3 linked regions of the Homo sapiens genome follow. The protein of the gene in region 1 interacts with the protein of each later gene in a pairwise test. Each region holds a gene or a part of one and is shown in the gene's direction. Other genes may lie near its edges. The genes, in order: ABT1, MAB21L3 and CDCA7L.

Evidence for each region.
Region 2: the proteins of ABT1 (region 1) and MAB21L3 interact in binary tests that used the Homo sapiens proteins (3 or more experiments, as listed by UniProt).
Region 3: the proteins of ABT1 (region 1) and CDCA7L interact in binary tests that used the Homo sapiens proteins (3 or more experiments, as listed by UniProt).

The regions. Positions count from the first base shown.
Region 1 is NC_000006.12:26,591,241-26,601,831, forward strand, and holds ABT1 (activator of basal transcription 1), read left to right. Parts: upstream 1-5,712; 5' UTR 5,713-5,742; coding exon 5,743-5,983; intron 5,984-6,673; coding exon 6,674-6,870; intron 6,871-7,024; coding exon 7,025-7,405; 3' UTR 7,406-9,499; downstream 9,500-10,591.
Region 2 is NC_000001.11:116,112,802-116,122,745, forward strand, and holds part of MAB21L3 (protein mab-21-like 3), read left to right. Parts: intron 1-8,130; coding exon 8,131-8,271; intron 8,272-8,518; exon of another isoform or gene 8,519-8,557; intron 8,558-9,329; exon of another isoform or gene 9,330-9,414; intron 9,415-9,944.
Region 3 is NC_000007.14:21,906,285-21,916,228, reverse strand, and holds part of CDCA7L (cell division cycle-associated 7-like protein), read left to right. Parts: intron 1-4,474; coding exon 4,475-4,612; intron 4,613-7,721; coding exon 7,722-8,099; intron 8,100-9,589; coding exon 9,590-9,661; intron 9,662-9,772; coding exon 9,773-9,940; intron 9,941-9,944. UniProt on the Homo sapiens protein: Plays a role in transcriptional regulation as a repressor that inhibits monoamine oxidase A (MAOA) activity and gene expression by binding to the promoter.

The DNA.
Region 1 (10,591 bases):
AGAGTGGACATCCTTGCTCTGGACCTGATGTTAGGGCCAAAACATTTGAGTTTTTCATCACTAAATATATTAGCTGTTGAATTCTTAAATATGTCTTTTATACTTTGCAGAAATTCTAACAAATGTATCTGAATTTTGTCAATTGCTTTTTTCTACACCTACTGGAATAATCATATGGCTTTTCCTGTTTAGTCTGATAATAAAGTAATTACACTGATTACATTGATTTCAAAATTAAATTCTAAGCTACACTTTTCTTTTCTTCTTTAATTCTTTGAAAGTTACTCTTCCCATTTTTTAGATTAAGGTACAATTCACATACAGTAATGTCATCAGTTTTAATGTACATTCTCCTTAGTGTAGCAAATTTTGTCAAATATAGACAGTCGTGTTATCACCATTACAATCAAGATATGGAATAATAATATCACTCTACCCCCAAATTTCTGCATGTTTCTTCTTCTTTTCCTCCTCCTTCTTCTTCTTCTCCTTCTCCTTCTTCTTCTTCTTTTTTTTTTTTTTTTAATAGACAGGGTCATGCTCTGTTACCCAGGCTGGAGTGCAGTTCTTCCATCATAGCTTACTGCAGGCTGGAACTCCTGGGCTCAAGCCATTACAGGCATGACACCAGGCCTAGCCTCCCAGGAGGAAAGAAGAAAGAAGTTGTTTCTTCTTCTTCTTTCTTCCTTCTTTCTTTCTCCTCCTCTTCCTCCTCCTCCTCTCCTTCTCCTTCTTCTTCCTCTTCTTCTTTTTCTATTTTGTTCTTACTGAATCACTATGTTTCTTTTATACTTAATTTCTCCCCTATCTTCTACCCCAGTAGCAACTAAGGATATTTTCTGTCCCTATAGCTTTGCCCTTGCAAGAATTTCATAGGAATAATATAGTATGTAGCATTTTGTATCTGGCTTTGTAAATTCAGCATAATGCAGATGAGTTTCATCCCTGTTGTTACGTTTACCAATAGTTTGTTCCTTTTTATTCCATAGGAATATTATAGTGGTCTGTAAGCTTCAAGAGAAGTTAAAACCATCTAGGTAGGACTCAATTCGCAAGTTGAAAAGGTGCTAAAACAATAGAGAAGCTACAGGGTGAGATTGTAATCAAGTGATGATGATACATTTCCAAGAATTATTTCAGATAGTTAGATTTAGCCATAAACCCATTTTGAACTTGTGTCTGCAACAAGAGGGAATAAATAGAATGGCCGTTCTGACACCAGATTCTGTAAGAAGAGGAAGAAGGAAGTCTTCCCTCAAAGTGATACAGAAATCTAGTGCGGAAAGGTACTAATTACTTGTTCTTGTATTCCCAGGAGGCAAATATTGGGGATTATCAGGGGAAAGAGCATTTCAGGCAAATGAAATTCCAACTTTAACAGCCCTGAGGTGTGATTCTTATGCTAAGATTAGTTTATAGGTAAAGAAAATAATTGATGAGATTAGCTATTGGAGTTCTTCCTGATCAAAATCAACTCTATAGTACCGTGTCACTGAGAGTCAGGAGGCTCTGGGAGCTCCTGAGCATAGCAGTAACTGATGAGAAACATACTGAGCATTTTTTTCTGTATGTTTGCTGCCCCCTGTGAAAATTAGTGAAGCTTTTATTCGAGAAAGCATGTGAACTGAGATCCTGGGGTTTGGTGGTGAAATGGCAGGGTTGGTCAACTGCTTTCACATCTGGTGTCCAAGGCTCAGTTAGTACACTTCATATGGGCAGAGACCATCTCATAAGAATCTGCTCATTTCTCTTCTCTGGCTTCTCGTATTTTCCCCGACTAGGTTACATTATTGGAAAGGAATTTACCAGACCATATATTCTTAGTTTCTCATGGCAATGAATTGAATAACTGAATTAAATATTAGTTATGTTGCTGCAGATATTTCTCATGGGAAACGCTGGAGAGGATCTTTTGAAAAAAAAAACCGTATTTTTGTCAAGATTACAATTATGGAGAACTTTAACTGTAATAAGTGATGATCTTTTATAAATAAATTCACCAACACTCCTTTCCATAAATTTCACAATTTATAATTTCCATATACTTCTAATAATTTTATAAAAAAGAAAAGTCTCTCCAGATGCCTTCCCGTTCTTCCCATTGGTGTTCATTTCTGTTTTAGGCACGAGGAAGCTGAATACCATGATAGGTACTTATTAGCAAAGCATGACAGCATACCTTTGTGAAAACTGTCAGAATCAAAATGGAGTCACTATTGTTAAAACACACAAACACACAAAACAAACTAAAAACGCTAATTAATAGAGCTGGAAAAGGCCATGCTTGATAACAAAAACTATCACAAAAGACTGCAAAAACCACAATCTTGCACAGGCCATCACAATCTTACACAAAAAATACTTCTACAAGGACATCTGCCCCACAACTGCCTGTCCAACCTCGGACTAGCTTCCTCTTTGCTATCCATTTTTGTAGCAGACAATAATTACCTCAACACAGTTATATAATCCTTCTCATTTTTTCCCTTACAAATCTTTGTCGCTGAGCTCGGTGGCTCACGCCTGTAATCCCAGCACTTTATATTCTGGATCATGAGGTCAGGTGGGCGGATCATGAGGTCAGGAGTTCGAGACCAGCCTGGCCAATATGGTGAAACCCCGTCTCTACTAAAAATACAACAATTAGCCGGGCGTGGTGGCGGGCATCTGTAATTCCAGCTACTCCGGGAGGCTGAGGCAGGAGAATTGCTTGAACCCGGAAGGCGGAGGTTGCAGTGAGCCGAGATTGCGCCATTGCACTCCAGCCTGGGCGACAGAGCCAGACTCCAACTCAAAAACAAACAAACAAACACCTTTGTCTTCCTTTACCTCCCTGAATATACATAGTTTCCTATGGCACTCGTATTTTCATTGCAATGCTCTATTCCCAAATAAACATCATTTTCTTTCAGAGAGCTTCTCTTTGTTATTTAGGTTGACACCTGTAAATAGAATGCTATATTTCTTTTTTAAATTGTAGGGGGAGAGAGAAGTGTTGTGTTTCATTTACTTGTCCCATTACAATTGTGCAATATCATATGAGCCGCTCAATTCCTAAACATATGTACACACACAACGCACTTCTGTTTTGTGTCTCGAACACAAATTACAAATTATACAAATTGTGTAATTTTCCTTGCCCTTCAGAAAGGAGAATCTCAATGTTTCCGAAATGAACTGGGCAGTAACTTCGCTTCAAGGCGGTAGGTCCCCCCTCTTCAACCCAGTTGTCTAAAATAACCTTGTCTTTATTATTTACTTCCTATAGAGAGAGGAGGTGCTAAGCGGACAGGACAGCTGGACAACACGCGCAATAAGGGCAATGGTCCTATCTATTCTAAGGGAGGAGGACATGGAATATTGGTGTGGTTTTGTTTATTTTTTATTTTTTTGGACCTATGTGAAACATTTTTACAGTAAAACCCACAAATTTTAAATGTTCAAGAGAATTGTTCATATACTTGTATAGTCAGTATCCCTACTCAGATAAGAACATTTTAGAACATTTTGGAACATTTCTAATATCCTAGAAAATTTCCTCACGTTTCCCTATATTTTCAAAATGAACAAGAATACAGGATAGTCAAAAGCAATAGGTAAATCCTAAAGAATCCAAAACGAGGGTAATGACATCCTTCGATAGCTCAGCTGGTAGAGCGGAGGACTGTAGGGGTTTGAATGTGGTCATCCTTAGGTCGCTGGTTCGAATCCGGCTCGGAGGAGTTCCATTTTTAAAAGTGTCTCTTCTGGGCCTGAAATAAGGAAACTTGGAGAACGCATGTGCAGCTTGCTTATTCAGGAATTTGTAAGACGCTCAGAGAAGGAAAATAATCCACCCTGAAAATTGCTAACAAGGGTTGCTTCACAGACAGTTGAGTGGGACTCGATTTTCACCAAGTTGAGAAGGGATCATGAGGAATGTGGGGAACGGGAAGAACACGCTGCCCCAAGGCTTCATTTTTTTTTTTTTGTCGGTTTCACGGTCCTTTAGCACCCCCTGTTATATTGATACTTGGTGTGAATAAACATTTTATTAATGATAATTTCAAATATATACAAAGTAGAGAAAATAGCTAATAGCTACCATTAGCCACCACACTGGCACAACTTACCGACACTCTTGCATCCATCATGCCCCTCCCCTAGCTCCAGATCTTTTAAAGCCACCCCAACACGTGTTCTCATTTCATTAACTGTACTGTGTTTTGAAGATGTCAGTGTTTATAATTAAATAGCAGTAGACGGAGTTTATCGCTCTCATCGTACCCCGCTCCTCTTCAAAAAAGGAGCAGTGGACACCTACCTGACAGAAAGTTCTCTTCAATAAAGTTAATGAAACAGGCGTGTTTGAATTCGAGAAGTCTATTATTAGACTTTTAGACACTCCATGAAAGAGTGCAGGGCCCTGTTACTTTAGAAATATACTTGGGGACTGGCAAAAACTGTCATCTCTGATTTTAATAGTGGACACATTTACTCCCTGCTTCCATTCTCTGGGCTACTCTGCGCTCTTGGAGCGAGATGGGAAATTTTGTCAGGCCGCAGCAAGGACGGATTTATGTTGATAGTCATCAAACTCGCCCCGGGCTGCTTCCAGAAAGCTAACCGGATTACTTGTACGCGGTTCCCAGCACTGTCCTTTGCAGTCAGCTTGTCGCTGGCGCCGATGGGAAGAACTGAAACGCCTCAAGGGTGGGGACGGCGCCCCCTGCTGGTCGCGCCCTCGGGCGACGATAAGAGACTGAGGACCCGAGCCCGCGCGGGGAAAACTGCCCTGAGCTTGGCTTAGGGATGGTCCGCAGGCCGCCTGGTGGGAGCAGGACCGCCGTGGCCCGGTCCGTTCTGCGGTTGCGTAGGTCATAGAAGGAAAAGTGGTTTGTGATCTGATAGGGAATCTGAGGACAGACCCAGGGAGAGCAGAAATAAGCGCGCCGCCGGGGGGTCGCCAGAATTGGAGGCTTGTGCGCCTCTGACAAGTATTTGCAACATAAGTATGCATATGGATAATGTATCAATACACACGTGTAATAGATGCCAAACAAATTCTTCAAATAATTGTCACACATTTAAATTTTCAGACATTCACAAAATCAAATGTAAAATATTAAACTGAAAGTTCACAACTTAAATTTTCAAAAATTAAATCTAATTAAATTTCCAAAGTTGAACTGTTTTCAAAATTAAATTTTAAAATATTCAAAATTCCGAGGTAAATTTCCAGAAATAGTTAAAACCTCAAAACTCAAAATTTTTAAATGAAATTTATAAACTTTAAAAGGTGAGTCATTCCTCAGCTGGAATCGCACCCGGGGCCCTTGAATAAAATGCTATTTTGATCGCTAGAACACATAGAAACTTCTCTAAAATTGTTCTGCAAAATTCCCTAAAAAGCCGGCATCAACCCGCCTTTTAGCGTCTCGACAAGGCGTTCTATAGGGTAGGTTATATTTGGGGATCTGCCTTTTCTGGTTCTGCCTGTCCTGAGTTGGAGATCTGACCGGGAATCTGAGCCTAACCCAAGTTTCCCATCCCGCTTCCACGCTCTGAATCAGGCTTCCGACCTGACACACCACTTCCTCCCTCTCCCCTCGGCCTTCCCCTGGACCCGACTGTATTGCCCAATCATTTCCTTTCATTTGTCATCACCACCTTGGACCCGCCCCCTCGTCTCAGGCCGTCGCACGCGTTTTGCGTCAGTTGGCAAGGCACTTTACGGCCGTCGTGCCGCTCGTGTCAGTCAACATGGAGGCAGAGGAATCGGAGAAGGCCGCAACGGAGCAAGAGCCGCTGGAAGGGACAGAACAGACACTAGATGCGGAGGAGGAGCAGGAGGAATCCGAAGAAGCGGCCTGTGGCAGCAAGAAACGGGTAGTGCCAGGTATTGTGTACCTGGGCCATATCCCGCCGCGCTTCCGGCCCCTGCACGTCCGCAACCTTCTCAGCGCCTATGGCGAGGTCGGACGCGTCTTCTTTCAGGCTGAGGGTAAGTATGCAGGCCCTGACGGTGACAGGAGGAGGTTGTCGCTCGCTGGCGGGGTGCAAGCATGCATGTCCTGTTGCTTCGCTGCGCGAGGCTGAGGCACGAGTTGCTGGATTTTGGGGGTGGGGAGTGCGGTGCTTGGCTCCTGGCTGGTGAATCAGTCTGTGAGGATGCTGGGGTGGGCGGGCGGAGGGGATATGGGGAGAGTGGGTAGCGCAGTGTGTCTGGTGGTTCTTTAGTTCTCGGATTGTTACTATTTGTGTTCTTATCCCGGCTCTGTTCACCTCTCTTTCCGGACCTGTTTACTGGTTTGTTACATGAATACAACCTGAGTAAAAGTCTCGTCAGCTTTTCTACAAAACTGAACATAACTCTTTAGCATTGCTGCCTAGGTCAAGAAACTATTTGATCAACCGCCCCTCTTCTTTCCACCCTCAATTTTACATTGAGGCTGAGGACTTGTGCCGGTTTTAAGCAGCGTTCAGGGCTGGCCAGATTAAGGAGTGGACAATTAAGGAAAGAATTGAGTTAGCTAGAGGAAAGGGTGCGATTTACAGTTCCCTTCCTCCTGGGCAAAAACTCTTCAGGTGGGACTCCCACTGGCAGATGTGAAGAACGTTGCGGGCAGTGGGAGGTGCTTTTGAGTGAGTGCTGCATAGGCGTCCTGGACGGGTCTTTGTCTTTGGCGCGCAGACCGGTTCGTGAGACGCAAGAAGAAGGCAGCAGCAGCTGCCGGAGGAAAAAAGCGGTCCTACACCAAGGACTACACCGAGGGATGGGTGGAGTTCCGTGACAAGCGCATAGCCAAGCGCGTGGCGGCCAGTCTACACAACACGCCTATGGGTGCCCGCAGGCGCAGCCCCTTCCGTTATGATCTTTGGAACCTCAAGGTGAGAAGATAGATCTTTCTGCCACACCTCTCACCCTCCCTTCTCCCCAACTCTGGCCCAAGTATCCCCATGGCCTCTCATTGGCCTTGTCCCCTTGTCTCATCTTTCTCCCTAATCTGCACTATCCTGATCTTTTCTTCTTTTCTGCCCACAGTACTTGCACCGTTTCACCTGGTCCCACCTCAGCGAGCACCTCGCCTTTGAGCGCCAGGTGCGCAGGCAGCGCTTGAGAGCGGAGGTTGCTCAAGCCAAGCGTGAGACCGACTTCTATCTTCAAAGTGTGGAACGGGGACAACGCTTTCTTGCGGCCGATGGGGACCCTGCTCGCCCAGATGGCTCCTGGACATTTGCCCAGCGTCCTACTGAGCAGGAACTGAGGGCCCGTAAAGCAGCACGGCCAGGGGGACGTGAACGGGCTCGCCTGGCAACTGCCCAGGACAAGGCCCGCTCCAACAAAGGGCTCCTGGCCAGGATCTTTGGAGCCCCGCCACCCTCAGAGAGCATGGAGGGACCTTCCCTTGTCAGGGACTCCTGAGGGCCTGGGTGGCCCCTTCCATTTCCTGGCCCTGCTCTGCTTCCTGTCTACCTCATACTAGAATGATCGTGACTACCCGGGCAGACATTTTACTGTGTTTCTCAGACCAAGTGTCTACTGATGGCCCAAACATGGAGTTTTGTGGGCTTCCACTGTCCCCACTCCGAACTCCTGTATGTGCCTGGCTGAGTCACCTAATTCATACTGTCATACTAGCATAATTATGACTATTGCATATGCTTGTTTTGTTTGACTCTTGGCTGCCTACGTCTGTAGGGTCCCCTGAAAATCCCACTTCCTGCCCCCAGAAAGGGCCTTTATTTCCAACTAGGAGGATAATGCCTAGTCCAGGCAATCTTTCTCTGTTTAGCAGTCACAGGTGAGGGTGGTATTAGCATCTTTTTTATGTAGAAAAAATTGAGTTAATGGGGTGGACTGGGTTGGGAAGAAATACATTTCCTAATGTATTTATAGAAAATAAAAATATTTTTATGTGCCTTTTTATTTTTGTTGGTGGGGAGGTCATTGGACAAGTTCCAACTTTCATCTTGTGTTCCCTTCACCTTCATATCCTGATCTTAGAGCCCCCCTCCCCCTGCCACCCACCTTACTGTTTAACCTGGATTTTTTTTTCTATTTAATTTTTGTCTAATATCTTAGCCCAGTTTATCAATCAGTTATCTTAAGTCAGCATTTTCTAAGCCATTGTTTGAGGAAACAGTGACAATAGGTAATAACACATCTTAGTATTAAGAGTTTTACAGGCCACTAGTATAAGATAGGCATCGTGGTAGATGCATATAAAGGGTGGAATGGGAGCCATGGCAGGTCATAGAGTCCTCTCAATGGGAACCTGATTGATGATCACAGTCTTCAGTGGTGAGTCAGTCCTCACCAAGTTTTCCAGATCATTCCTACAAAGTAAACTGGGAGAATAATAAGTCTGAAAGAGTGTGGAGTGCTCCCACAATTACAAAGAATGCTTCCTGGGTGGAGTGTTGAGTTGGAACCATTGTAAAGGTGGGCAAAGCCTAGTAGAGAACCAGTGCACCTCAGGTGCACTTACATATGGTGGGGCTGAGGCAAAGCAGCCCTGTAGGCTTCAAAGAATCAGTGTAAGCCACTAAAAGGAACTGAAAACCTAGGTGTCACAATAAACAGTCTACACAGTCTCACGTAGACCAAAATTCTGATCATTTTCCAGGCTGTTGCATGAAGTGATAGAGTATGATTATAATTTCTGTTTGCTTGTGCTGTTTGTTTTTGTTTTTCATCTGTCAATGTGATGATCTGTGTTTTATAGGGTAGAGTGGATTTGTCTACTTTGGCTGTAAAATACCCTAATCACATTATGATCTTGACAGGTGCACTTTACTGGGGAGAATAAAAAGGACCATACGGTAAAGCTGGTATAACATTTCTCACAACCCACATACCTCTTATACTTGGCACACAAACTACGTTTCCATTTAGAAACTTTCGTCTTGTTTCTGTTTTTAATTCTTGTGGGTTTGTTTCATGTGAATTGTTTCCTCAGATCATTGATGTCTTAAAGTGAAACAGAAAAATCCAGAATCAGAATTTGACAGGCTGGCATATTCATTTATTCAGAATTCCAAGTGCCCATTGCTACTTCTGCTAGATAAAGAGATACCAAGGTGAAGAAGAAACTTTCCCTCTAGTTGCTAACAGCTTAGAAAGTACAGTAGACATACTGGGGTTTTATTTAAGACTTTCTTGAATGAAGAAATAAATTGCATTCCCACGGTGGACAGCGTTAGATAACAGTATGTTCAAGGGCTGGTATTTCAGGGTCCATCTCCAAAACAGTTCTGTACAAAGAGCTCACACCTGCGGCCAGGCAAGCTAAGTAAGTCACAGGTGGAGTGAGGAATGAGAATAAATGGGTGGAAGAAAATATCCTAGGAACTTTCATCTTGACTTTAAGCCCATTGAGTGTAGGAAAATAATTTTTTACATCCACAATTTTGTTTCTATTTAAACAGCACTTGTTTTTTTATATGAAGTAACTCATTTAATCCACAACTATATAATATTGTTATCCCCCCATTAAAACTGAGCTCAGAGAGATGACTCAATTTGCCTCTTAATATTTTATCCTTTGTTCCTCACCTTTTCCCCAGCTTTTCCCAGTGTGCATATGGTGAATGCTTATTACAGGAAATTCATGAGAAATGCACATGTTATAGACTAGAGAATGAAGTGTACCTGCCAATATGAGTGGATTTATTTTATCTAGCACCAAGAGTAGCAAACTGAGTAATAATTCTCAGTCATGATCCTGTGGTTGTAGTGTATACTCTGATTCAACTTAGTTTCACTCCTGACTGAGAAGCTGGGACTCTGCATTTGATGGCAATGGAGTGGGCTGATTTCTTTCCAAATAAGTTGAGGTGGGACTCCTGGTAGAGTAAGAGGGCTTTAATAGGGTATGTCTGGGTGCCTAAAAGCTTTCTCTCTCTTTTTTTTTTTCAGAGACAGGGTCTCTCTATGTTGCTCAGGCTGGCCTTGAGCTCCTGGGCTCAAGCGATCCTCCCGCCTCAGCCTCCCAAAGTACTGGGATTACAGGCATGAGCCACCACGCCCTGCCCTAAAAATGTTCAAAAGTCGTATTTACAGCTACTCTCAAATTCCTTTTTTTTTGTGATTCCTTATAAAACCTTTCTCCCTGCATTTATCTTGTTATATTACAGTAGAATTATGAGGGGAAAATCCTTTGGTGGAAGTCTAGGGACATGCTCAGTTCCCAGGAGGCTTAATGTGAATTTTAGTGAATTGCTTAAGATCCAGTATTAGATCTGCTGGTCCCTGCCCACCCCCCTTTTATTTTTTGAGACAGGGTCTCACTTTGTCACCCAGGCTGGAGTGTAGTGGCATGATCCTGTCTCACTGTAGCCTCCATCTTCTGGGCTCAAGCAATCCTCCCACCTCAGTTTCCTGAGTAGCTGGGACCGCAGGCATGCACCATCACGCCCAGCTAATTTTTAAAATATTTTTTGTAGAGATGAGGTCTCACTGTGTTGCCCAGGCTGCTCTCGAACTCCCGTTCTCAAGCGATCCACCCACCTTGGCCTCCCAAAGTGCTGAGATTACAGCCACGGTGCTCGGCTCCCATCTTGAAATCAATACCTGACAGAATATTAAAGAAAATGAAAATTGGCCGGG
Region 2 (9,944 bases), on another chromosome or scaffold:
CAATGTTTGGGGGCTTAACATATATCAGCCTTACTTCTCTTTGAGGGTCTGGTACCCAGAGACATGCTGAGTATAGAATATAGAATGGAGAGTAGGAATCTGGGGAATGAGGGGGAACTCCAGCTCTGCCACTGACACTCGTGTGGTTGTGAGTCACTTAACCTGCCTGAGCCTTGGCCTTCTTCTCTGTAAAATGGGAATAATAATAGGAGCTTCATGGGGTAATGGAAAAAGAGCTAATGAAATTAAAACAAAGCTTTTTAAAGACTGTGAAAGTACTAGGTTTTTAAATATTATTATATTTTTAGTACACATCAGTTAAGAACTTAATTTCTTCTAGATGGTCTAGATGGTCATGTCAAATGTTAGAACTTGAAGGAAACTTAAATATTACCTAGTTTAAGCCTTTTCATTTACGGATGAAGCTACTAAGGCATGATGTTAATGTTAAAACCAAAATATTTAAATTGACTAAGAAGTAGGCACTGGTCTGCAGTTTTCATGCCTTTACAAGTTCGAAAGAGAAGATCATTATCATAGTGATAAGTAAAATGTATTTCTTAGGCAAAACCATTAAGAGAGATAAATAAGGAAAACCTGGGATGATAAAAACTAGAGTAAACAAAGTGATTTCCCATTAATTCCTCCCTTTGAGGGCTCTAAGTGGAAGAGATATTGGCTGGCATTTTTTTCGTGGGTCCTGTATTTTTTGTAAGAAAAAACTCCAAACTTTTTAGTGTGGTGTTCAAGTAACTTCAACTGCTCTATCTTTCTACCCTCCGCTCCCCCTGCATTTCCAATAGCAGAAATCCTAAACAGTGTTCGACACGTTGAATCCAGTGTGTGCTCATGTTTTGTTTGGCCTGTAGATTATTTCTAATGTTTTTCACAAACATTTCAAAATAGATTTTGCATAGAAATCCAGATTTCTGTCTTTCCAGGGGAAAAAAATCAGAATATTTCGCAACTACAGGTCCCAGTTTCTTGCCTGGAAACTGTGTGCTGGGGCTGAGTGTTTGCTAGCCAGAGCACGTGCTGGCCAATTCTCAGGAGGCTGATCCTGTGTCTGACACTTGCTCCTGGTCCCCGCTGCCTCTCTCACGTGTGTCCCCTACTCCATTCCTGTAGGTGGTTGAGTCTCCCATTTCTGCCCAACAAGAACTGGGCCCTGAGCAGGCCAAGGGCCCCAGCTCCTCCTCGCCACTTTTCTGGCTCATATTCATCCTTCAAACTCAGAGTCCACTTTCTCAAGAAAGAGTCCCTGACACCCCAGCACAAAATGATTTTGCCCACATATTCACTCCCGTTATAATTAGTATTACTGGCACCATTTATTTGATCATGAGTTTGTATATTAACTCCTGACACTTTTCTATTATCATCTTGGTTGGCAACTTACATGTCATATCATTTCATTCTTTATAAGTTTCTGGAGGGAAGAACAGTGTCTTGCATACCTTTCTTTCCTTTGACATTCAGAGTATCTTGCACATATATGATCAGAAATATCTTTAGAGTTCGTTAAAGGCAAGAGTGGTGTGGAAGGCGACAGGTCAAGGTGCATACAGGATCTCATTTAACCTAATCAACAACTATGTGATGTACATATTGCCTCCATTTTTAGAGGAGGAAACAGAGGCTTGTGGAGATTAAATAACTTGTCCAAAGTTACACAGCTAAATTGAGAGGGTACTGAAGTTTCAGCCTTGTCTTCTTTACTCCAAAGGCCGAACGTCCTCTGCCAAACTCCTCTATATCTCTGCAAACACATACTAAGCACCTGCTTTGTGCAAAATACTGTGCTACGGTTTGAGGGTAGACCAAGGCCTGAGATGTGGCCTGCTAAATGAAAGAGAAATTTTGGTTTTGGTCTCTAGGATAGCCCTGTCCCATCTGCAGATTTTGTACATAACCCCAAAGGAAGAAGGAGGGAATTTCACATGCAGTCAGGCAAGTGCTTAATAGAATGCATGGTAGACCGTAAGGGATGCAGTAGAGATTTCAACAGATTGCTGGAGGAGCACGGTGCATTAGTTGTGATGGGAAAGGTGTCTTACAGAAAGAAGAGTAGAGACAAAGCCTTGGAGGAAGTGTAGGGTTTTAATAAGTGGAGAAGTATAGGAAAGGTCTTCCAGGCTAAGGGAACCCCGTTCAAACATTCAAGGTGTATTTCATTCCCAGTCACCTTTTTCTTTTGGGGAGCAGAACAGGGCAGTGGTTACAAATATGGGCTTTGGAAGGCTGCTACCTGTGTTCTGTAACTTACTAACTTTGGGAACCTGGGCAAATTACTTAAATATTCTGAACTTTGGTTTCCTCATCTATAAAATGGGGATAATCATAGCATCCACCTTAAAGAATGATGGGTAGGCAGGAATGAGCCTACTCTTATAAAATGCCTTGCACACAGGAAGGACTAAATAATCTTAGTTTCACGGTAATGCTGCTGCTACAGCTTCTGCTACATTTGGGGGCTGCAAATATTCTGCGTGACCCAAGCATTTGATTCATGGAAGAATTAGTCTACAAAGGAAGGGATATGATGGTGGAAAGCCTATGGTCTCGTGCGTATCTATCACTGGATTTAACTTTCCATTTCTTTACATTATTAGCCCCTGAAAGACAGAGATGATGCCAGTTTTTGTTTTGTTGAAATTTTTCTAACTGATGATTGGATTTCATGCAATTCTGGAATTAAAGGTCTGACTTCTTGTTTTCTGGAAGGAAGTCCTCAGCCTTTTCTTCTCAGTAACACTCATTGGGAATGACATACACATAGTCTGCATGGTCATGGGTGTGATCAGGCCTGTGTGACATTCCTGGCATGCTACTTAGCACCACCACTCTGTCTCCATTGCAAGGAAGCGTATCGGAATGCAAGTGAGTCAGAGTGATATTATTATAGGGGATAACCTTAAATCCCCATAATTTATATTTGAAGCAGTAAATTATTCATGAACTTGAGCTATTAATAGCAGCAAATGACTTGTGGGGCAACAATGAACCTGATGCTGTGGTTAAGGAGGAGGAGGGGAAAGCAGCCCAAGATGGGACAAGGACCTTGACAGCATGGAGACATGCCTGGGAAGAGCAAGGCCCAAACAACATTTGTTTCCATGTTTTGCCATGAACTAAGTTTGGTGACAAGGTTGCCTCAAGGCTGCCTTGAAGCTGCAACTGGTATCTTGCTGGCTTCCTAAAGTTTGAGAGGCAGTAAAGGATTTCCAGGGTTGGGCTTGCAATGGGTGTCTACTTGTGTTAGAGCCTCCTTCTTTAGATCACTGTACAGCTGCCCCAACCCCACTGCCTGCTTTTCCACACCCTGAAATGAACTTCTTGCTGTATCTGTCTAGGGTGTGGCCAGAATAAGTGGAGAGAAACAGTCTGGGGGTTCTGTGTTGTCACACCATGAGGGTGACAAGAGGTGTCTGGCACTAAGCCTGGAAACCCCCAGCACAAATCACTTCTGGGGCTACCAAATAGCACGGTGATGCTGTGTGGGTAAGAACTTATTGCAGGAAGTGTAGCCAGAGATGTGGGGAGGGACAAGGCTGCCCGCCACCTAGAGAAAGAGGCTTCTGCTCAGGTCCCACAGCAGGAGCATCACTGTCTGGCCCTTGCTGCATGACCCTTTGTGCTTGTTAGATGCCAGAACAGTTGCTGATGCCTAAATACATGGAGACCTAGGACTCCTTATTTCATGAGTCTTGACTTTAAATTGAAGGCATTTTTAGGTTCAGGAAGAGGATAAAGGGTAGGCCGTACTTCTGGTACATCAGTACTTAAGGGTGTGGCAAAGTGTGATGGAAAGAAGTGTTGGAGAGCCTGTCTAATTCTACATCTAACTGCCGGTGTGATGTTAGGAAAGCTGCCTTGTCACTCTGGTCCTCCATAAAGTCACACCAGACGAGGCAATTTCTGAGGTCTCTTCCATTTCTAAGATCCTGAATCTAAGTTGCAGCAGAAGTGATGGAGGAAGAAAATTAAAACTGGAATTTGTGGTTCTAGGTCTCAAAAAGCATTATCTTATTCTGACTTTCACCTTTGGTAATCAAAACAGGTCATAAGGGTGAACTAATAACCTGTGTAACAAGTGAGAGATTATAGTTGTTTTCCAGGAGTGCGTGATCTTGTCCTGCTCGGTAAGAATTTCACCATCAAATGAGGGCACAATTTGTAGAATAGATTTACAATGAAGTACTTTTTCCAATAGGCTACTCTTCACGTGTGTTATGTGCATACATACACACATGTACATACATACACACATGCACACACACTCTTAAGCTTCTATTTAAAAATGATTTGATGGTGATGAATTTTTCATTAGTTTATTAACTCAGGAATCAAAATATACATACATATATATATATATATATATATATATATATGTATAGTCACTGCTATGTTACTAACATTCAAGTTCTATGGAATTACATCCGTGGGGCTGGCAGATTCAGGAGGCTAGTCTTGGCCTTCAACACGTTCTGAGAACTTAACTATTAGAGAATACTATTTCTCAACCACTCTGCCTGCAATGTTCTATCTAATTAACACTTTTATTACTTTTCTCCACTGTACCTGCTCAGACTTCAGGTCCCTGAAGTGGCCTAATGTTCCCTATTCTACCACTAGCTTTATCCGTTCTTTATTCCGGCTGGAAGATATAGCCCACTGCTGAAACCCTCTGTTGCTTTTTTATCTTTATCCATCTCTTGCCCAGCAAACTCCAATCTTAGCACCTCAACTCTTACCTTTGGAGGGCTAAGAGGTGGTGGAGCAGATCTCACTAACTGAACTTACTGATATCCCACAGCCTCAGGGACTCAGCCTCAGCCAAGTCTTGACACTGTCTGGTTATCTTTACTCATGCACCTAAACAGTCTCTCATTCCTTATAGCAGCTATCTCAGCAGTCTATCGCCTGAAATCTCTTGCCTTCCACTTCACTCTTAGCTCATTAACATCTCCCACTCTATAAAGAACATAGACGTCAGACTGGAAATCTCTCTGATTTTCACTGCCCCCTACCCTTTTATCTGTATCTGCATGCACCCTTTTCCCCTTCTTTCTTTCTGCCACACCAAGATGAATTCCTCACTCAGGCCTCTGGATGTGCATGACTCCTTTTGGGTGGGAAATCCTTACAAACTGGTTTTGCTCTCTGCTACCTCTTCTTTCACCACTGACTCTTTTCTCTCAGCATTTAAACATGTTTACACCTGTGTGTCATTTTGCAAGGAAAAAAAAAACTGTTCGCATCCCTGTTGTTTTGGTTTTCCCCATGGTAAAAGTTCTTGGGGCCAGGCACGGTGGCTCACACCTGTAATCCCAGCACTTTGGGAGGCCAAGGTGGGCACAGCAAGAGGTCAGGAGATTGACACCATCCTAGCTAACATGGTGAAACCCCGTCTCTACTAAAAATACAAAAATTAGCCAGGTGTGGTGGCACGTGCCTGTAGTCCCAGCTACTCGGGAGGCTGAGGCAGGACAATCACTTGAACCGAGGAGGCAGAGTTTGCAGTGAGCCAAGGTCACACCACTGCACTCCAGCCTGGCGACAGAGCGAGAATCCATCAAAAAAAAAAAAAAATTCTTGGAGGAGTTGCTTACCTCTGTCTTCACTTGGTTTTCTTCCATTCACCCTTAATCCACATTTAATGTGCACCTCTTCCCCACCATTAATGCTAGTGCCCAGTGTTCCCCCAATGCAGCAATCCTATTCTAGCTGTCAGACTCCATGGACATTTGGGGGCCTTAACTCACTCAAGCACTTACTGTTGACTTTGTTCTTGAAATTCTTCCTTTACTTTCAGGACCTCTCACGGTTTATTCTCCCACTTCACCACCTCTTCTAGGGCAATTGTGTTCTAAAAATATCACAGGAACAATTGCACAGGCATGAGGAGCACAAATTCTCTCTTTGTGCGCCTCAGGCCTGGCTCAATACCTGCTATTTTCTCATTCTAGAACAACTTTCATGCCCCCTTTTTCCTAGCTAACGCCTAGTAAGCTTTCAAGATACAACTCCAACACACTGTGCCTCCAGAAAGGCCTCCCAACCTCCAAACTGGATGAAGTATCCGTTTTCTATGTATCCATAGCATCTGTGCAAACCTCTACCTTGCACTAGATTGCAGTGATTTTAATTTCCAGGTCATCTGTCTTGCTTTGTCAAGTTATCTATAAACCTCGTGGCAACATGTATGCACAAAGCACAGCATAAAATGGATGTTCCACTCAAATTACTCAAATGGAATTGAATCACAACACAGATGGGAAGTCCTATGCTGGAGAGGACCCTTAAGTTTTGGCTTCTAAAACCTTTATTTTTGTCATTTGTTATTTTTCCCATAATAGCATCCCACAATTGTATTCTGTGCTTACATTTGTCTTCCTCACTACTGTGAATGCATGGCCGGGTCTATCTTGTGCATTGCTGTGTTCCAGCATGTAACAGTGCCCACCACAGAGGACATGCTAAACAAATACTTACTGATGAACTGACCCTATATGTGATATACAACGTGTCTAACAATAGGTGCACAGTCACATTCTTATACTATGAACATATGAAGTTGGCTTGCTGGTTGATGAGAAGTATGAGTGAGGTCTCAGGTGACTGGCCTAGTTGATGACTTAGTTTAGGAAAACAGGAATCTCTTTGACTTGGACTTTTTTTTTCTGGCTGTCGTGATCAGTTTATGGGTGTCTCAAAATGACTCTAGAATATGTAGAAACAGCCATTATACCAAATTCAGAGAGAGTATAAAGATTCATAGATGGGCATTAGATTGAGATGTATCAGATATTGCTTGAAACTGGCCCCTGGCTGAAGGAGCCTCTGAAGGAGAGTCTTGCTGTCATGACAGCAGCTTGTAGGTGCCTCCTGAGCAAGATGACAAAGTGCCCCCTCCATTTCAGAAAAAACTTGCAGACCCTTCCGTATCTTATTTGGATTTTTCTGTGTCTCTTCTGGAGTTTACTAAAAGTTCCTTTGTGTTTCCCACAAACATCTATTTCCCTAAACTTTAAGTATCTGATTAGTGTTGAGTTTTCTATGAGAATTTCCCAATTCTTCATAACTCACTGTGGTAACTTTCTGTCAGCAGAAACATGCCTTTTCTTAAGGGTCTAGAAGCAAAAGGCAGGGGTGAGTACGGAGGCAAAGAGAACCATCATTTACTGATGACATCAGTGGGAAGCAGGCTGCTGGGTGCTGATACAAGTTAAGTGGTTTAATATTCACACCATGGGCAGCAGGCGTGACAATACCATGGTAGAGTCTCACCATGGTTCACAAAACCCTGTGTGATGATCTGGTCCCTGCTTTCCTTTCCAAACTCACCTCCTATCACTTTCCTTTTGCCAGATCCAACCACAATGGCCTCACTGCTAGCCTTAGAGCATTGCCTACGTCAGAGGAGGAACATGGAATCTGCTCTCCTAAGCTGTCTTCAGCCTCACTCAAATGTCACCTCTTTAGAGAAGTCTTCTTTGTCCATTGCCCACCCTAACTAAAATAGCTGCCCCTTTATTCTCTAGTCCCTTATCATATTTTATTTTTCTTCATGGGACTTATCATACTTGATATTACATTATACACACACACACACACACACACACACACAAACACACACACACACACATATATATATACAGGAATACATATATATACACATTTATATGTGTGTCTGTGTGTATAATATCAGATATGACACTATATATTATAATATTGATATTATACATTACAATTATATATAATATAGTATGTATTATATCTACATTTATTCCTATATTTTCAGCTAGAGGGCAAGTATCTACATTGTTCACTGTTGTCTTAATCACTGTTGTGTCCCCAGCACCCAGCCTGGCACCTGCTACATAGTAGGTCCTAGATAAATATCAAATGAATGCATCTGTTACAGAAAAGAACATTGAGGCACCACCAAGTGTCTTCTCAATGGAGTCAGACCTAAATTCATCTCCCCGGCATCTTGGGAAGGCAGGATTTTTGAGCTGAACTCCCTCAGTCACCCCTTGCTGTACCCTTGTCTCCTCACTCTCTTATGCTGGTATCTTGGGGCCCACAGAGGAAATAACCACCATTGCTGGTCCCTCTCACACCCAGGTGGACTTGAGGCGCCAGCAGATTTCCCAGGCTGTGGAGGAGGTGCAGAAAGTCGTTCATCATTTGACCACAAACATCAGCAACCAAGACATTAGATTTCAAGCTGTGCCTTACTCTGACACGTACAATGAAAATATTAAGGTAAGCAAGTCTTGCTGTCTCTAAGTGCCACCAACAGAGCCAGGACACTTGGGCAGGTGAATCTCAGTGTGTGACAGATGCTTGCCTCACTCAGAATACTCATAACAATTCTTGTTTTCATAGGTATTCTTAGTTTTTACTATTTACAGTCTCATTTTATACATGTCATTTCAGCCAGCAGGGTGCCTTATGCCTATAATCCCAGCTCTTTGGGAGGCCAAGGTGGGAGGATGGCTTGAGGCCAAGAGTTTGAGACCAGCCTGGGCAATGTAGTGAGATTCTGTCTCTATAGAAAAAGAAAAAAAGATAGATGTTATTTCCTTTGAGCCCCCACATTCCTAGATGAGAAAAACTAGGCTCAGAGAAGTCAAATGACTTGATCAAGTCATATCAGGCACTAAAGCCAGAACTCACACAGAGGCTTTTGATTCCAAAGCACATTCCGCTGTCACAATCAAAGCTCAGTTAAATACACATTCATTTATTAAGCACCTACTTAATAGATTGGGGGTGGGGTGGAGGGAACTGAGGGCATCCATAAGAAGACAGTTGAAAGTCAGTCTGTGGGTTGCAGATGGGGAAGGAAGAAAGTAGAAGAGGTGCCACTGAGAAGCTGCAGGAGCAGACTGGCAACCCCTCTCCCTGCTAAAGAATCCCACCCAGTGTAAGCCAATGGGTAACACCAGCATTCAGGCAACACAGTAGTGAGGGCAGAGCTGTACACAGAGAAACGACCTTACTTAAACCTGTAAACCACCTTGTGGAAAAGACAATCTGTTCATTTCCATTTTAGAGGTAAGAGAAGTGAGATCCTGAATCATTCTGAATCTCCATTATTCTTTATCTCGATTTTTATTATGCCACCTACCTCTTTCACTTTGTATTAAATTTGTATGTATTCATGGCCCATTTCTCACAACAGACTGCACATCCCTCGATTGTAAGGACCAAGTTTACTATTCGTTTTGTTCCTAGCACCCAGCATGGTATGTGGCACATGGTAGACACTTAACATATGTGGAATGAATGAATAAATGAATGAGTAAAAGAATTAGTACCTGAGCAAAAGACCATTGCTGGCCCATTACATCTCAAGGTTGGTGGACGCAGGAACCACCTAAGAGATTCTGGGATTTGTGGATTCTGAAACAGACTCAGATTGTAGGAAATTAATCCCAGGGTGAAAATTATAAAACCAGACTGAATCCTGGAATGCTAGAATATCACTTGCCCAACTCTACCACCCAAGCCAATCTAACTTGGACACACATAGACCAGTGACTAGAAATAGAGATATTACATTACTTTTCTTAGCACTATACCCAAGGAAATTTCCTTCAGTGGTCCCACTTAGAATTCATAGCTTAAAATATATCTTGCATTTATATATGTCATGTCTCACATATTAAGTTTTGAAAATAGCTACAGCATAGCATATAAAATTGCTTTTAACTTAGATCAAAATCAACAAGTTTTTGTTTGTTTTGCTTTTTTGCCTGTTTTTTAAAGATAGGGTCTCATTCTGTCACCCAGGCCGGAGTGCAGTGCTGCGATCATGGCTCACTGCAGCCTCAACCTCCCAGGCTTAAGTGATTTTCCCACCTCAGCCACCTGAGCAGCTGGGACTACAAGTGCAAATGCCACCATGCCTGGTTAATTTTTTTATTTTTATT
Region 3 (9,944 bases), on another chromosome or scaffold:
TTGTGTCCTAGTAGTAGAATGGCCAAAATCTCTACCCTTCAGTGGCATTTTCTTCTGAGTTAATTGTGGCACTCAAAATTCCTCATTCTGCCTTGACCATGGCCTCTCCAAAAAGGCAGCAAATTAAACCCACTTTGCTTCCACTGGGCAAGTCCAGGAAGGGAAGCAGTTAATTATATGTAAGTGAAGTGCCTGCTTAATTACGTGGGCCACTGTAAGTTCTGGCCTGGTGGGAGCTGTGCTTTCTGAGATCTCTGGAGGCTCCCTGGTCTCTGTCGTCCTCATCTCATTTGGCATCTCCACAGCAGTTGACCCCACCAGTAGACCTCCTTCTAACCACCTGGGTTTCTTCCTCTCTGTTACACCTTTTGCTCTTTGTTATTATTATTTTCTTTCTTTCCAAGATGGAGTATCATTGTGTCACCCAGGCTGGAGTGCAGTGGCATGATCTTGGCTCACTGCAACTTCTGCCTCCCGGGTTCAAGCAATTTTCCCAGCCTCAGCCTCCCGAGTAGCTGGGATTACAGGCTCCCACCACCACGCCTGGCTAATTTGTGTGTGTGTGTGTGTTTTTTTTTTTTTTTTTTTTTTTTAGTAGTGATGGGGTTTTGCCATATTGGCCAGGCTGGTCTCAAACTCCCGACCTCAGGTGATCTGCCCGCCTTGGCCTCCGAAAGTGCTGGAATTAGAGGCGTGAGCCACTGTACCTGGCCTGCTTTTTGTTACTGTCACTTGTTTTCCCTGTTCGTGTCCCTAAATGCAGATGTTCTCTAAGGGTTTGTCTTCAGTCTTCTCACTTAGTGAATCTTGTCTGTTGTCCTGCTTTGAGCTGTTACTGTATTCTTTTGTGGAGCTTGTCTTCTCTCTCCAGCCCCAGGTGGTTTCTGACTACCAGTTGGACTGGTCCTGGTTGCTAAGGGAGATCTGAAACTCACTTCTCCTTCCCTTGGTTGTCTTTCTGGCTTCCCCCTTTCCCCATCTTGATTTCCATCTTTTGTTCTTGGCCTTCCCTCCCCTCTTCCATCTCCTTGACTCCCGTCCAGGAGTTGATGAAACTTCTGCTGTGTTCCTGGTGTCCATCCTTCCCTTCCCTCTGCAGCTGCCGTAGCCCTCGTAGCTCTTACCCGAATGCTCATCCCTTCCTACTAGGATCTGTTATAGGATTGACCTCCGGTCAGCTCCTCCCTTAGCCCTCCATCTGAGCACAGTCAGGCGGTGGGGAGAGCAGAGCCTGTTGGATCCACCTTGAGGAGCATTTGAGCAAGGCAGAACATGTCTAAAGGGCCGAGCACAGAGCCTGGCAGGCACCGGGCATTAAGAAACAGAACAGCTGCTTCTGCTGCTATGATGACTCCTTTTGTAGTCAGGTGTGTTCTCCCCAGGGAGGACAGTGTGCCAACTGCTTTTCATACAGATACTGCATTTAATCCACAGACCTCCCTGGGAAGCTGCAGTTTTGCAAGTGATGAAACTGACGTTCAGGAAGGTGTAATGACTTGCCCAAGGCCCCACATCTGGGAAGTACCAAGCTGGGATGTTCCAAATCCAGGGCCACCACTTCTCAGCCTCTTACCCCGCCGGGTCTCTTTCCTACCTGCTATGCTGCAGGGCACAGGAACTGAACTGACACTCTCATTATCCACTGTTCTGCCCTTTCTGCCCACTGGTCCATGCTGTTCCTGCCTATCTGTGCTCTCACCATTTTTCTAGCCTCTACCGTGGCTCACATCCAGTTATGCTACTTCTTCCATGAAGTCTTACTGGATTTTCTTTCCCTCCGTGTGCCATATTGCTTTGTATCCCTTAGAGCACTGACCCTCACCAGGGTTATTCGTGGACCTGTCTGCCTCCCTGTTAGATTATAAACTCCTTAAGAAGGGGAGACCTCATACTTGAATGGTGCTTTCTAGCTTCCCTGGCTCTGACTTTTCGTCCTCATGTATTGTTCCTTTCCTCTGATTTCAAGCATCCAACACCCCACCTGACTGTATACAGTGAGCACGGGGGGTGTTGTTTGCTGGGTGCAGTTGAAATGGGGTGCTTGTCTGGCTGTCTGGTTCAACAGGCCATTGCTCTCTGGTCTGTTTCTTCCATGTCACATGGACTTCAAAATAAGTTTATCCACCTATGTTAGCTTCTCCTCTGATGTGTTATTTGCTTATGGTCCTGATCATGGTAGATGACCAAGGCCTATAGCATAGCACCCAGTATTGATTTTGAAGATGAATGAACCAGTGCCAGAGAGCAATCAGCAGTGCCAGGGTTTCTAACTCAGAATGCAGTGGAGCAGTGTGGAGTGGAGATTGGCATCATACAGACCCACATGGAAAACAGTACTTACACACTTTGGAGTAAGGAAACTAAAGCACAGGCCTCAGTTCAGGACAATGGTAAGTTGTTTTTCTCTATCAGGACTGACCATCAAAGATGGTAATCTCTCCCAAGATGCCCATTGCCCTGGGAGGCCAGCACACAGGATCAAAATAGCCAGAAAAACTGGAAGATGGGAACTCATAGCTTCAAGGCTTGCCCTGTTCCCTTCAGGCCCTAGGCAGGGGCTTTAGGTAGTTGATGAAATTTGCACACAGAAATACCACTCTAAATTAGCCTGCAGGGGCTGGCCCAAGGCTCTGTGAGCCAGATGTTTCTTGCACTGAGAGGCCTCAGGTGCATGGTGGGTTTCCTTAGCAGCAGCTGTGTACCATTCTTCCTTAATAATCAAGCCCTGGCTGCTTCTCTACCCCGACCCCACAGGCTCATGATCCATTTTAACCAATAGAGAGAAGCTGCATGAACTTGCACACAGTATGTGTATGCTAACTCTGGTCTCCCTTAAACACGATTTGAATTTCACTTTAAAGAAACTTCCCTTTTGTGTGTGCAATTTTTTTTCTCAAGCAGCTGCACTACAGCTATCAACAAAGGAACAAAGTAATTCAGCTCTGAGCAAACTCACTCCAATTACCCATAATAATTCATAGGAGACATTTTTAAGCTTACAGAATGCTAGATGTAGGCATTTCTTTCTGTGTGCCCCTGTAAGTTTTTCCACTTGTCTATTATATCTATCTTTCCCCAGAGATATATGAGCTCAAAGAAGTATATAATTAAAGGCGGGGAAACGCAGTGGGGTAGATACAGATTCCCCGCCAAGTGTGGTGTTACAAGGGGTCATTGCTATATCAGAGATGGGGGGAAGAGACGTCAGAGGAAACTGGGGACAGACTCTAGTCTTGATGAGGTGTGGCGGGCTTGCAGGGGGCTGGTCTCGTGGGTCTCCCTTTGGCCTGCAGTTTGTTATTTCCTCTTTCTTTCAAGTATACTATTAAGAGAGTTGGGTTTCCATCTTTGCACTATTTCAAAAGAAAAAGTATTAGAAAATGCCTTTTCTTAAAGAGTCACATTGCATCTTTCCTTCTGCTCACTTGCCACCTAGCCATGGTTGTTCACCTCTCACCTCCTGCACGAGAGAAATTCCTGGGGGTGACCTTGAATGAGCTTTCCATCAGGCCCCCATGGTGTCTGCTCATGGAGCAAGTCTAGGCTCTCTGGTGGTGGGCGGTGGGGGCTGAGAGAGGCCCCAGCCTTTTCCTACAGAGAAGCTCGCTGTTGGTGAATGGGAGGCATGCTCACCCACTTGGAGGAGACTCCGGCTTTGAAAGGCTGTTGGAAAGGGAAGCCAACACGTGGGAGGGAGCCAGGTTTTCTCCTCATATCTTCTTTCCATGTGTTTTGGTTCTATGTGAAAGCAGACGTGTCTGGTTGCCAGCTTTGGCAGGAGAAGCTGAATTCCATGAGCACTTACCAGTCACATTAGAAGCTGATTGAGACTACACCCAATTTTTAAAAATTGTCTGTCTTGTAGGTCTGAATTTTGTAAGCTTTAGAAAATGTGTATATATGTAATATATACGTGTACGTATGCGGGTTTTTTTGAGAGAGGGTCTCACTCTGTCACCCGGCTGGAGTGCAATGGTGTGATCTTGGCTGCAACGCAGGCTGGAGTGCATTGGTGTGCAGCTCACTGCAGCCTCGACCTCCCAGGGTTGGGTAATCCTCCCACCTTAGCCTCCCAAGTAGCTGGGACTACAGGTACATGCCACCAGACCCAGCTAATTTTTGTATTTTTTGCAGAGATGAGGTCTCACTATGTTGCTCAGGCTGGTCTTGAACTCCTGAGTTCAAGTGATCTGCCTGCCTCGGTCTCCCAAAGTGCTGGGATTACAGGGTGAGCCACTGTACCCGGCCAGTGTTTTTTTTTTTTTGTGGTAAAATACACATAACATGAAGTATATCATTTCAGCTGTTTTTGATGTGTACAGTTCAGTGCATTAAGTACATTCACATTGTTGTCCATCCATTTTCGTCATCTCCATCAGAAGCTCTGTACCCGTTCAGTAGCTCCTCATTCTACCCTTCCCTGGTAACCTCTATTCTACTTTCCGTCTCTGATGTATGTGTGTCTTTAATTTAGCAGGATGTGCGCTTTCATTCCAAATACTTCACAGAAGAGCTAAGAAGAATTTTTATAGAGGACACTGACTCAGAGACTGAGGATTTTGCAGGATTTACGCAGAGTGATCTGAATGGAAAGACTAACCCAGAAGTAATGGTAATAATTACAACAGGAAGGGATGTGGGTGGTAACGTTTTTAATCCTGTTTCTGAAAGAGTTTTACTTGTAAGCAGTCACTTCACAAGTGAAAAGATTTTTCTTACATATTTATCTTACAAGCAATTAACATAACCTAAAAAAATTGCTCCTGGAAGGCTAATCCCTGGTCCACCAGTCCATTATTCTCTTAGAGAAAATCCATTCATCTTCTCCTCGTGCCTTAGGGGGTTTTTGGGGATGTGTCCCAGGCGTCCTTTATTGTCCTTCTCAAAGAATTTATCTCTCTTGGCCAGGCACGGTGGCTCATACCTGTAATCCCAGCACTTTGGGAGGCCGAGGCGGGTGGACCTGAGGTCAGGAGTTCAAGACCAGCCTCACCGATATGGTGAAACCCCATCTCTCCTCAAAATACAAAAATTAGCCGGGCGTGGTGGCGGGCACCTGTAATCCAAGCTACTCGGGAGGCGGAGGCAGGAGGATTTCTTGAAGCCGGGAGGCAGAGGTTGCAGTGAGCTGAGATTGAGCCACTGCACTCCAGCCTGGGTGACAGAGCGAGACTCCATCTCAAAAAAAAAAAAAAAAAAAAAAAAAAAAAAAAAAAAAAAAATTATCTCAAGAGTTCCTTAAACCTCTTTTATCTAAAAGTTTATCTTAGATGACAACTTTCTTGAGATACTTTCTTACTGTGTGTGAAGTGACAGTTTTTGGTTTGAAGTTAATTTGGCAAAAATTTGGCTGTGGTACAAACTTGGTGTTCCCCATGCATTGTGGATTTGGATTTGTCATGCTTTTTAGTGTTAAAGATGACCCAGGCCTGCCTGGATTCTGGAGGGAAGTCTACTCTCAGCACTTCCTATGAACAGACTTGTTAGTTATTTGTTTGTTTTATCCTGCACAGTTAGGCTAGTTTACTGCCCACTCGTGTTTGAACCTGAAGGTAACTTTAAGGCACAGCCTTCGGATTTAAGTGCAGAAATGTTTTCTGCTAAAAATAGCATACATTTATGCAAAAAATAAACATGCTACTATCTTCTTCAGTATGAAGATGGAACGTAGAGTTTACGCCTCTTCACAGCCAGAAGCTGCTAAAGACTAACTTTTGGCAGAGACTGTGTAGAGGTATAAATAAGCCGTGACTCCTAGCCTGCCATGTCCCTCACTTGTCCTAGGAGAGAATGTAGAGCATAAAAGCCCGCATGGTAGGCTGCTTCGTTTGATAGTGATTTTTTGCTATGAGTAGCAACATAGAGCTGTGCCAGCCTGGAGGCCCCAGGTCTCCTTTGGCTTTCTTTGCAGAAGCTGTTTGTGTGGCAGTTCCATCAGTTCTGGCCAGCAAGTCCCTAGCTTCTTGCCAGCACGATATTAAGATGCTTCTAAAACCCTAATGGGCATCATCAGTTAGCAATGTACTTATTTTCTGTTCTTTAGTGAAGTGATGTCTGGTTATTCGAAGCATTTGCATTTCTAGTGAGAGAAAGTGAATTACCCCAGAAGTCTTCCCTCCCACCTGCCCCCAAGTCTATGGACTGTGTGATGTAGTTACATAGATCATGATATAGCTTACAGTTCAGCACAGGCCCTTGCAAATTTTATTTTAGAATCCAGTGAGAAGAAAAGCATTGTTGCCTCCCAGCCCACCCTCCTGCCCACCCCTGTGGGAACTGGCGAACCTATCTTTCTTGATAATGGGACATTGCTGTAACTTGGTTTCCAGGGGTCTGCTGGCCGGATGCGAAATAACCACATCCATGTACTACACTTGTGCTCTTCTCTTGGGTCTGATTCTGGGCTGCTGTGTACCATTTGTTCTTTCCTTCCTTCAGGCCTCTGTAGTGAGCTGTTCCACATCTGGTAAAGAGAGGCCTGTCGATGATGAGGATGGTAGATAAATGGATCAAAACTGAAGTTCTTCCCTGACAGTGTCCCCTGAAATTGGGTTCCTTTGCAGTACACCATTTTGAATTCTGAAGCTATTAATATGGGAAGTTCAGGGTATTAAAAAATAGATAAATCAGTGCCATATAGTCTTACTCCTCACTTGGCTTGGTGTGGATATACCAGGGTTGGCAGTTATCTGCGTTTTTTTTCTCCCTGTGTCTTATTTCTAACTTTAGTCCAACGAGAGTTTGGGGTTGATGGTCGTCACCGGGGAGGAAGCAGAGTCCCTGAACTGATCCTGGGTCCGTATCGGTGCCATTCCGTGTTCTTGGTAGATTTTCAGAATTCCCAGATAATGGTTCCCAAAGTTTTCTAGCTTCTGGTCATGGAAGGATGCCCAGAAGACGTCCTAGATCTTACATACTTAAACCTGTCTCTGTACCACTGCTAAGAGTCCCGTCACATCCAAGCTGTCACCTAGGTGATGTATCCCTGTTACTGCCTTCCATATTTACTGTGTTCTCACTTGTAAAACAGAGCAATGTTTGAATGCTGGAGACCTCTGCCATGTGGAATTTGAAAATGTCGGGTGAGGATTTCTTGAGTTGACTGAGTGGTGTTTTGCTACAACCTGTAGAGCTTTGTGACCTGGTTTCACCTCATGGCTCTGAGGGTTCCAGAGAAGGGAAAGGTGCCCCTTGACTGAGGACGCAGTGGCAGGTCATCTGCCTGTCCTGGGTCACTGCCCTGAGGTGCAGTCAGCTCTCCCGCCCTGTTATTCAGGAGTCTGGTTCCTGCTATTTAGAGGAGACCAGTCAGCATTTTTCCCCCGTTGCGTCCTTTCCTGTCTGAAGATCACATCTGTCATGCTGCTGTCTCTCCTTTTCTGTGACTGTCTCTCCTCTTGCTGGTGCTCCCTGGTTGTCCCACGGTGGAGGAACCCACCCTGTCAGTGTTTTGCTTACAGCCCTCATGCTCTGAATGGAACCCATTTCTGTCGCGGGTATGATGGTGCACAGTTCAGTAGTAGGTTGCCTGCTCTCTGATTTTATTCATCAACCAATTTCTTGCACATTTAAAGGAAATTCAGAGGGAACTCATAATATGAAGGGGAAGCTTTTCATTTTTCATGTTTTTTCTCATAATGCTGTCAGTTGTTTTAAATGCATGTCTTTTTTGTGGGTCTGTAACAGTGTCTTTGTGCTTTTTCTTGCTCTTATTTTATTAGGTCGTGGAGTCAGATTTGAGTGATGATGGCAAAGCATCTTTGGTGAGCGAGGAAGAGGAAGATGAAGAAGAAGATAAGGCTACCCCTAGAAGAAGCAGGTCTAGAAGAAGTAGTATTGGTCTTCGAGTAGCCTTTCAGTTCCCCACCAAGAAGCTGGCCAACAAACCAGATAAAAACAGTTCTTCCGAGCAGTTGTTTTCTAGCGCACGCTTACAGAATGAGAAAAAAACAATTCTTGAAAGAAAGAAAGACTGTAGACAGGTGATACAAAGGGAAGATTCTACCTCTGAGTCTGAGGATGACTCTCGGGATGAGAGCCAGGAGAGTTCAGATGCTTTGCTGAAAAGGACCATGAACATCAAGGAGAACAAAGCCATGGTGAGGCTTCACGGAGGGCGTCCTGGGAGTTGGCACCAGGCTCTGGCAGCAGTTGCTGGGCTCCCAGAACCACTTTGCTCCTACAGCTGCTGCTGTTGCTTTGGCTTCTGTCAAGAAAATATACTCTGGGTATTGTGTATCCTTTTACTTTTCCAGAACCCAGAGCAACTATTACATGATCAGCTCTGGTTTGGGAACAGAAAGAGATTCCCCAGCACCATTTTTAGCCCCTACATGGTGCCATAATGCTGCTTACTGTTGACCAAGCTAAGTTCTAAGTATATAGTTGTGTTGGGGATGAGAGGGGCTGAACAACTAGCCCGTTCCCAGCAGAGTAAAGCAGGGGAAGTGGGATGTCACCAAGTCCACTGAGAAGTTGCAAGGAGCAGGTTGGGCAGGTAGCTTTTCACCACAGAACCACTCTTCTATGGTGACCAGCACTGGTTCTGAGACTTCTGAAGGAATGGAAGAGGTCTAGGAATTAAAACAACCTCAACAGTGTTAATTCACTCTACATTGTCTTCATTAGAACAATGAATGGAACCAGGTGAAATCTTTGTTACATATATTTGGTTTTTCTGTATATAATCAATTACTGTTAATCTGATCATTGTAGAGAATCATTGTTTGCTTCATAATTGTTTATCTACAGTTTTTTTTTAAATAGTTCTACCACTTATCCCTTTTAGCATTTTGGTAATTTTTTAATCTTTTCCTTTTAAAAAAAGAATGATGCAGTGATACTGTATATGCAAGCTTATATGTCTAATATAAATTACTTACAAAAATGGAATGCCTACTTTCGGATTATTTTTATCCTAAGAAACATTTTTACTTAGCTAAGGGAAATTTTCAGCACTGTATCCATCTGCATCTTTAAAATAAGCTATTTTCTTTATGATTTTTTTGGTGGCACTCATATAATTGTATAAACTAAAACGAATCCTAATTAAATTCTCTGGCATATTAATGCCTATTATTTGGTATTATTAGTTCACGTAGGAATATCTTCATAGATTACTTTGATTGATGAGAAATTAATCTATTTAAAGAATCAGACTTTTGGAGTTCTAAATAACCATCGAAATAATCTAGTTGAGCTTTTTCTTTTTTGAACATCCTGAAACTTGAGACTCACGTGTGCAAAATGAATTGTCCCAGGGTCACACCGCCTTGGATTAGCCTCCGAGTCGGGATCGGAACCTCATGCTCCAGGTCTTGATCATTCCAGGACTGTTTTCATAGTGTTGTGTTGTCCTTATATATAAGGAATAGGCTAGTGTTCATTCATATGAATGATGACATCAGCATCTCAGGTCTGGAGGTACAATCTTTACATGTGAGGTTAAAAGTATAACTGTTGTGGGTTATATAAACTATTCAAGTTAGGTTTCTTATGGTGGCAAAATGGAAGACTTGAGATAGGTGTTGGATGACCTAAACCTGGAGCCCTATTTTTGTAAGATTCTTTCTTTTGTTCTGAACTTCAGCTTGCCCAGTTATTGGCGGAATTGAACTCGATGCCAGATTTCTTCCCAGTACGAACCCCAACCTCAGCTTCTGTAAGTAGAACTCCTTATAATTATACCAATACTGATATATGGTGATCAGCCACCAGACGGCTTTTATTCGAGAGAGTCCCCAGTTGTCTCTGTCTGTGCTCTTGATTTCAGAGGAAGAAGACAGTGAGGCGGGCCTTCTCGGAGGGACAGATCACGCGGCGTATGAACCCAACCCGGAGTGCGCGGCCTCCTGAGAAGTTTGCTCTAGAGAACTTCACTGTCTCAGCCGCTAAATTTGCGGAAGAGTTTTACAGCTTCCGAAGAAGGAAGACAATTGGGGTAT